Homo sapiens: one gene and its partner. The protein of the gene in region 1 interacts with the protein of each later gene in a pairwise test. Each region holds a gene or a part of one and is shown on either strand. Other genes may lie near its edges.

Region 1 (4,444 bases):
TTTATGCAAAGTATTCATACAAATTTGTAACAGTAAAAATTAGGAAATTATAAAATACAGGAGGCTGTGAAGCTAAGTATTATATGTCAGTATAATGAAAGGCAGAAATCTATCAAAGGTGACAACAATTTGAACTATGTAAATACATAAAACTAAGTATATACACTGGTGTAAGTTAGAAGAAATTTTAAGTGTTAATTAAGACTCTTGCACAGTTCCAAATGACAGAAAACCCAACCCAAACTGGCTAAGGAAAAGAGGAGATTTATTGGCTGATGAAAATTAAAACTTTAAAAGGCACAAAAATCTCTTCAAAATAGATTATAGACCTAAATGAAAACGTAACATTGTAAAATGTCTAAAAGAAAACACAGGATAAAAATCTAAATGACCTTTCTTTTTTTTTTTTTTTGGTAAAAAAGTCAAAAACAGACAATACCAAAGGCTGACAAGGACACAAAGCAACAAGGACTCTCATTCATTGCTGATGGACATGCAAAATAGTATAGCTAGTTTAGAAGACAGTTTGGCTTAACACAGGATCCAGCAATTACTCTCCTAGGTATTTACCAAATTGATTTGAAAACATATCCATGCAAAAGGCTGCACATAAATGTACATAGAAGCATTTCTCACAATTGCCAAAAACTGGAAGCCACCAAGATGTCTTTCGATAGGGGAAGGGATGAACAAATTGTGACACATCCACACAGTGAAATATTATTCAGTGGTAAAAAGAAATAAGCTATCAAACCATGAAAAGATGTGGAGAAGCCTTAAAATGATATTGATGAGGAAATGAAGCCAATCTGAAAAGACTACATACTGTATAACTCCAGCTCTGTGACATTCAAGAAAAGGCAAAACTGTGGAGACAGTGAAAAGATCAGTGGTTGCCAGGAGCTAGGGGGAAAGGGGGAGGGGGGAATGAATAGGTGAAGCACAAGAGATTTTTTAAGTGGTGAAACCATAACGTATGGTACTATAATGGTGAATACATGGTCCTATTAATTTGTCAAGACCCCCATATATTTAATAGCATAAAAAGCAAACCTTAATGGATGCAAATTAAAAAAAATTATTTACGAGATTGTAGGATTTCAGGAAGGAATTCAGACTGTGACAAGAAAATCTAACTGTATTACAAGTGCATAAAACAACCTTACTGAAGAGGCTAGAAAGAAAATGTGCAGACTTAAGTAACTTTGGAAATGAATAGAGTTTATAAGAATAAAGGCAAAAGGAATTGCAGATAAGCAGTGTACTCTTGTTGACAAAGTCCTTCTCACAGGAGTAAAAAAGAGGTAAGAGTGAGGAAAGAGATGTTTTTCCCAAAGCCAAGTGAGTCACAAGAAGGGGAGTGGATGAGATGGATGATGAGCAACACAAATCATAAATGCCCACCATAAATATGCATTTGATTATTTTTCTGTAACATTGTAAAATATGCTCACACTTTGGAAAAAAAGAAAAAAAGGCCAGGTTCACGCCTGGAATCCCGACACAGGTGGGTGGATCACTTGAGGTCAGGAGTTCGAGACCAGCCTAGCCAACATGGTGAAACCCCATTTCTACTAAAAGTACAAAATAAATAAATAAATAAACAACCACATGTGGTGGCATGTGCCTATAGTCCTAGCTACTCGGGAGACTGAGGCAGGAGAAACACTTGAACCTGGGAGGTGGAGGGTGCAGAGAGCCCAGATCGTGCCATTGCACCCTAGTCTGGGCAACAGGGCGAGACTCTGTCTCAAAAAATAAATAATTTGGAAAAAAAGGAAATAAAATGAAGTTTAGTTTATGCCTTATAGACTTACCACAACTAGTCATCTTCTATTTTTTAGATATTATTATAATTTCACACACACTGCCCAAATCATTTAAAGTAAGCTGAATGAACAAAACTCAAACCAATCACTTTACTAGGTTTAATGCATATCCTGCTCAAATTTTTATCAAGCAAATATGTCAAGTTTATAATGTTATGAGAAGCTTAAATCAGTGTTAATAAAAATTCGATGAAAAGTATGTTTTTTATTACATCAAAGAAGTTTCTCTTGCACAAACCATAAAAGCTATGCTAATTCAAATATTCCTTTGTGAAAGTTACCTCAGATATAGTGACAACTGCTGTGTTAAAGACATGTTTATGGCAACAAGATGATGATGATCAGACTGAGTGGGCATAATGAGATAGCAGTATCATGTAAATTAAATGTAGGTGGGTTGGGCATGGTGGCTGATGCCTGTAATCCCAGCACTTTGGGAGGCCTATGCAGGCAGATCACCTGAGGTCAGGAGTTCAAGGCCAGCCTGGCCAACATGGTGAAACCCTCATCTTTACAAAAATACAAAAATTAGCTGGGCATGATGGCAGATGCCTGTAATCCCAGCTACTCAGGAAGCTGAGGCTGGAGAATCTCTTGAACCCAGGTGGCGGAGGTTGCAGTGAGCCGAGATCGCGCCATTGTACTCTAGCCTGGGCGACAGAGCGAGACTCTGTCTCAAAAAAAAAAACCCAAAAAACAAACAAAAACAAAAAACATATGTGATCATTGCATTGTTATATCCATTATATAAAAATCATATATGTGAGAGAAAAAGCAAATTTAGATCTCCTTGTGAAAGCAAACACAAAAACTATTTACCTGTAAAAATCATTTGTTTTCCCACAGTAGTAGATGTTGGCTTTTGGTATGATACAGATGCCATGGCTAAAGTCTTAACCGTGCTACTGGATTTTCTTCTTCGGCTTCTTCAAATCAGTTAAGCTGCACCAGAAAGAACGAAAGACTCTGCAGTCTTTCCTCTCCCTGCTTGTGACCTGCACCAGGTGGTTGCTAATGACTCTTTATGACAGGGAGATAGAATGTTCCTCCTTGCAGAGTTCTGCATTCCAATCTCCAAGAGCAGAGACAGATACTGCTATAGTCTTCCCAGAACTTGCATCCAGTAATAACTTTTCCTTATTTGTCAATATCAAGTCAGAATACACTTGTTCACAGGTACTAGATCCAGTTCCAGCTTATGTCCCAGATAATCTGGCAGGCTCAGTCACCACTGTCTTTCAACATTTCAAAAAGAATGTCTTGCAGAAATATGTTACAGCAAAAAACAAAAAGCCCCCACAAACCATGGTTAAATATATTTGACAAACACTGGCAAGATAAAATACAGTAAAAAATAACATTAATAAATTAATGAGATAATTACACACACACAAATATATATAGATATATTTCCAGTCTCATATTCCAATCCCTCCTTAAATAGTGCTTGTGCTTTGGTCATGTCAATTTACCTGTGGTTCTCAATCTGTGCAATGCTTTCTCATTGTTCTGAGCCTTTACACATACAATTTGCTCTTCCTGTAATGTTGCTATGCAAATATTTCTTGTCCTTTGACAGCCAAGGCCCACATCTGCTCTTCCAGGAGGATGTCTGCAGACACAGCTAAGTGCTTTCTTCTTCATGTCCCTTTAACCTCTATAGCACTGTGTTTAGATGTATCTTTTTAACTCACCACTTCAATTATTTGTCTATTTTATCGACCTCCCCACTAGAATCTGACTTCTAGGAGTTTATGATAAAAGTATACTTATTTATATTTCAATTTCCAGAGACTTGTATGCAATAAATAGTTAATAGATGTTTGTGGGATGAATAATTGTATGAACAGTAATTCTAGCTTGCACAGAAATATATCGGCTACCTGATAATCCATTGAAGATAAATTCTAACAGTAATTTTGTATTCAACATTAAATATATGGAGTTGTCTACTGTAAATGTAATATCTTTTATATTTTGAGAATTATAAGAAAAACACTATATTAACTCTGGAAAGGCTTACAGTAGGCTTATGGTAGGCAAAGAGATGTGCTACTCAGGTAGGTTCCCTTTCAAGGAAGGCTTGTAGCCCAGCTGGAGGAAGGACTGTCAGCAGACAGTGTCCAGCTGTCAGCACCTTCGGGGTCTGCCTTGGCTGCAGAGAGCTGCCTCCTCTGTCTGAGGTCAAGCCTTTTCCAGGGGAGCCTATGTCAGGTACTGAATGAGGTAGAGGTATAAAGACCAGTCATTTCTCACCAGGTTGGTCAAGGCTGTGTTGAGCCCTTACAGTTCTTCTTCTTCCTCTGATCAGTCCTGCTTCCTCACCTTTCCTTTCACAGGTATTGAACCCAAATAACCACCTTGCCCCCCACTTTCAGAGAACCCGACCTGAGATAACTAGACAGCATAAGCACATATGCACAAATGTATTATACAAGAGTGCTTCTCATTTTAACCACTCAGCCCTCCTAACCAGAAACTGAATATATTTCCCCAATGTGGGCAACTAGAGTCAGTCGCTGTTGTGTTACTGATCTTTGGTGTCATTTTCTTTGGTTCTGACCTGCATTATGCTCTTCTTTACCTTCCTATGGCCTGCTACAGTTTCAGAAGCT
Region 2 (4,270 bases), on another chromosome or scaffold:
TGAGACAGGAAAATCGCTTGAACCCGCGAGGCGGAGGTTGCAGTGAACTGAGATCACACCATTGCACTCCGGCCTGGGCAACAAAAGTGAAACTCAAAAAAAAAAAAAATCACCAGGTCTCAGACTCCTGGGAGACAGACCCCAGCTCCGACGTTCCAGTGGGATCTCATTAACCCCTGATACTGACCTTCCAATTTGATATACCTTCCTTTTAAAATATATTTATTGAAATACAAAGAGTCAATATAAAGAAAAATAGAGGTCACCATACTTGGCCACAGTTAGACCGCTCATAGGCCCATGGCTGCTGCAACCATGGGCAGGACACAGAGGGAGTCCAGCCTCTACTGATAAATCTGGGCAGGTTCACCTTCGCAGGCCAAGCCAGGGGCCATCCCTGGTATGCGAAACCTGGAGGTTTTCCAGGAAGCCGGCTGCTCCAGAGCTAGCTGTCAAGTCTTTAGCCCCACAGGCTGGTGCCCAGAGCCACTTCCACAGGAGCAGCCTCGGGCTTCACCCACACCCAAGGAGCTTCCGAGGCAGGAGGCAAGCAAGGTGAAGGGAGGGTTCAGGGTCCCACAACAGCAGTGAGCAGGGTCCAGCCATCAGGCCTCAGAGCCTCTGTCATGCCACCTGCGAGACGGGCTCCTCCTGTCCCCACTGTGTCCCCGCTTCCTCCTCTTACAGCAGGGGGAGTTGGAGTCGGAGTCATGGTGGTGGTGCCTGGGCCTGGGGAGACCAATGGCAGTCAGTCACTCGGAAGGAGTCAACCAGGCCCCCACCCCCAAGAGGCAGATATGGACCAGGGCATACCTCTCAGGAGATGTGGGAGAGGAGGTGGCCTCAGCTGGCCGCCTGTGCTCTTTGTCTTTCTTCTTCTTCTCTTTCTTGTGTTTCCTCTTTTTCTTTTTCTTCTTCTCCTTCTTGCTTTTCCTGTGGCTCTCACAACTACAAGGAGGATACAAGGTGTGCCTCAGACCCTAGTCTTGCAAGCCAAGAGAGTGAACACAAGCAGGCCCCATCCAGATGAAGCCACCACCCACAAGTGCGTCTTTAAATCAGTTAAATCAAACTACAAATTCCACTCCTCAGTTACGTAGTCACGTGGCCAGTGGCTACGTGGGTTAGAAACAGATGCAATATCCCCATCTCCACAGCACGCCCCTGCCCCACCCCAGCCGTGCCCTTGGCAGGTTGACACCTTCCTACCTGCACCCACCAGGCCACTCTTAGGGTCAGGCCCAGGCTCACCATCCAGGAGAAGCCCTGGAGGTGCCACCCACGGCAGGAAAAGGCCCCGCCCCAGGTCCTGAGTGCCCTCCCACGGCACAGCGCCCGACCACTGCCAGTACTTAGGACCTCTCTTCAAGGGTGACCCGAGAAACTCCCCTAGAGAAAAACCTAGGAGTAACTGGGACAGGAAGTAAAGTAGGGCAGGCCACCCGCCGGGCCGGTGCGCCAAGAGAAGCTGCCACCTGCCCGAGTGGGAGCCGCTCCGGTCCTCCCGAGACCCCCCACCCCGGGGCACAGCTAGCCCAGGTGGCACAGCCTCACCTGCTTTCCGTCTGATCCTCCGCCCGCGGCTTCCTCCTGGCCGAGGCTGCCGAGGTCCCGGGCCCGCCGCTCTCTACGCGGTGATGCTGCGGGAGAAGCGAGCTCTGCGGAGGAGTCTGCGGGCCGGCCCCACACCACGCCCCGCAGCGCCCCGGGGAGCTCCGTTCAGTGCCCCCGCCCCGCCCCACCCCTGTTAGCCCCTGCTGCGGTCAGGCGGGGCGGGGGATTACCGTGAACACAGACAGCCCCAGTTTGGCGGCCTCCTTGTCCTCTCGGGACATCGCCACGCGGCCCACGGAGCCACTGCAGGGACATGGCGATGAAGACAGTACGGCAGGGGTCCGCCTCACCCGAGCAATCGAGCCCAGTGCTGCCCTCCCCTGGAAACCCGCCCGCACCTTGCGCTCCCCAGCCCCAGCAGCCGGTCCACGCCCTTCTCCTCGGGGTCGCCTCCTTCCCGCTTGCAGACCTCCGCGAAGTCCTGCAGGTGCGAGAGCACAGGGAGCGCTCGAGTCGGCCCCACACCCACGGCCCTCCACGCGCCCCCCACCCCGGGGAGTTACCTCCTTGCTCAGGCCCGTGGGCTGCTTCTTCACGTTCTTGTAGCCACTGCGAGAGGGCCGGGGCAGGCGTCAGGACGGACGGACCTCCTCCCACCACAGGTCCTCACCACTCCAGCCTTCGTCCTCAGGGTCCCGCCCGCGCGAGTCCCCGCAGCCCCGCTCCCGCCCAGCCCGACCCCCAGTCCCCGGCCCCGGCCCCACCCTGCCCCGGCAGCGCCGTCCCAGGCACCGACCGCTGCCGTCCGCGGACACTCACAGGGCGGCCAGCAGCGCCTCGCGCTCCGCCTCCCGCACGGCTGCCAGTTCCTCCTCGCGGCTCGGGCCCGCGCATGGCGCCCGGCCCTTGGCGTACCAGGTGAGGTCGCGGCCCTTCTGCCAGCGGCCTACCGGCGCCATCAGCGAGTTGCCTGCGGACGTAGACGCTGTGAGTCCAGCGCCCGCCCGGGATCCCGGAGCCCGGAGCCCGGAGCCCGCCCACCGCGCGCACCCACCCAGGTAGTTCTCCCGCTGCTTGTCAGTCTTCACGTCCTCCCAGTTGAACTGGTCCTGCCCGCCGCGCACGCCTCCACGACTGGAGCCGAACATGGCGCCGGGAAGGCAGTTGCCTGGGGCCTGCGGCTTGCAACCTGCAACCCGCAACCCGAGACCCGCTACCCACTACCGTCGGACCCAGGCCCGACCCCGCCTCCGCGTCGCGCGCCGTGACGTCACTCCCGCGCCCACTCGGCTTCGCCGCGCGCCTCTGCGCAGCGCACTGCCCCGGATCTGTGCTCCCGCGCATCACCTCCACGTCGGCTTTGGGCGCCTGCGCACTGCGCCTACCCTGCCGGGCGCGGGAACGCCTCTGAACTGGAAGTTTAAAAATGGTTAAAACGGGGCCGGGCGGAGTGGCTCTCGCCTGTAATCCCAGCAAGTTGGGAGGCCGAGGCGGGCGGATCGCTTGAGGTCGGGAGTTCGAGACTAGCCTGTCCAACATGGTGAAACCCGGTCTCTACTCAAATACAAAAATTAGCCGGGTGTGGTGGTGCACACCTGTAATTCCAGCTACTCAGGAGGCTGAAGCAGGAGAATCACTTGAGCCGGGAGGCAGAGGTTGCAGTGAGCCGAGATCGCGCCACTGCACTCCCGCCTGGGCGACAGAGCGAGACTGTCTCAAAAATAAGAAGTTAAAATGGGCCAGGCGCGCGCGCGCCCCTGTAGCCCCAACGCTTTGAGGCTGAGGCGGGAGGATCTCGAACCCAGGACTTCGCGCCACTGCACTCCAACCTGAACGAGTGAGCGGACCCTGTCTCATAAAAAAAGAAAAAAGAAAACACACAAGATGCGCCTAGTTAACACCGCCAATTGGTCACTGCTAGTCGCGATTCCATATCGGGAGCTTAACAAGGTAATGACCTTAATGATTTGTGGAATTTCTGAGTATTACCCAGTAAACTTCTGGATGAACCAGCAGCTACCCAGACACCCTCAGAGCACTGGTCCTATCCCTGCCGTGTTAAACTGAATGTGCACCCTAACTCCCATGTGAAATCCTCACCCCAAGGCGTTGGTGCTTCGGAGGTGACTAGGTCATGAGGACAGAGCCTTCATAAAAGGGACCCCAAGAGCTTTGTGCAGCTTTCTACTGTGTGAAGGCAGCGGGAAGGAAGTCTGCAGTCTGGAAGAAACCCCTTACCAGAACCTCAGCGTGCTGGGCACCCTGATTTTGGAGGTTGTGACGTACCCCTGCTTCCCCTTTCCACTTTCATTCCCAGTGCTGACTGAGAAACAGAGTCCCTTGGCCACTCTGTGACTTCGCCAACTGTATAATTTCCTCTGCAGACTTGAACCCGAGCCATAGCCATGAACGTTCCCAGGCACAGATGACAGTAACTAGGTTGTTGCTCAAAACACAGAAAGAAACTGGACTCAGCCTGAGCCAGATTCCTCAAACCCTCATATAAATTCCATTCACCAACCCCCTCCCCCACGGACATACCTAGAGAGAACTTCATTTCTCTCACTGCCTATTGCAAGAACTGCTGCAGCCCACTCTGTACAAAAGCCCCACGAATAAATGCTCTGGGCGAATCACCCTGGCATGCTCAATCTGTAGAATCCTAACCAGCCCCATCTCAGGATGGTGTGGGGCACTCCCTTGTGGGAACTCTACT

The links.
Region 2: the proteins of SPMIP2 (region 1) and C1orf35 interact in binary tests that used the Homo sapiens proteins (3 or more experiments, as listed by UniProt).

Annotation. Positions count from the first base shown.
Region 1 is NC_000004.12:159,032,385-159,036,828, forward strand, and holds the start of SPMIP2 (protein SPMIP2), read right to left. Parts: upstream 2,846-4,444; 5' UTR 2,713-2,845; coding exon 2,649-2,712; intron 1-2,648.
Region 2 is NC_000001.11:228,100,526-228,104,795, forward strand, and holds C1orf35 (multiple myeloma tumor-associated protein 2), read right to left. Parts: upstream 2,801-4,270; 5' UTR 2,703-2,800; coding exon 2,609-2,702; intron 2,525-2,608; coding exon 2,374-2,524; intron 2,164-2,373; coding exon 2,118-2,163; intron 2,036-2,117; coding exon 1,953-2,035; intron 1,858-1,952; coding exon 1,785-1,857; intron 1,641-1,784; coding exon 1,555-1,640; intron 1,390-1,554; exon of another isoform or gene 1,210-1,389; intron 949-1,209; coding exon 814-948; intron 730-813; coding exon 606-729; 3' UTR 206-605; downstream 1-205.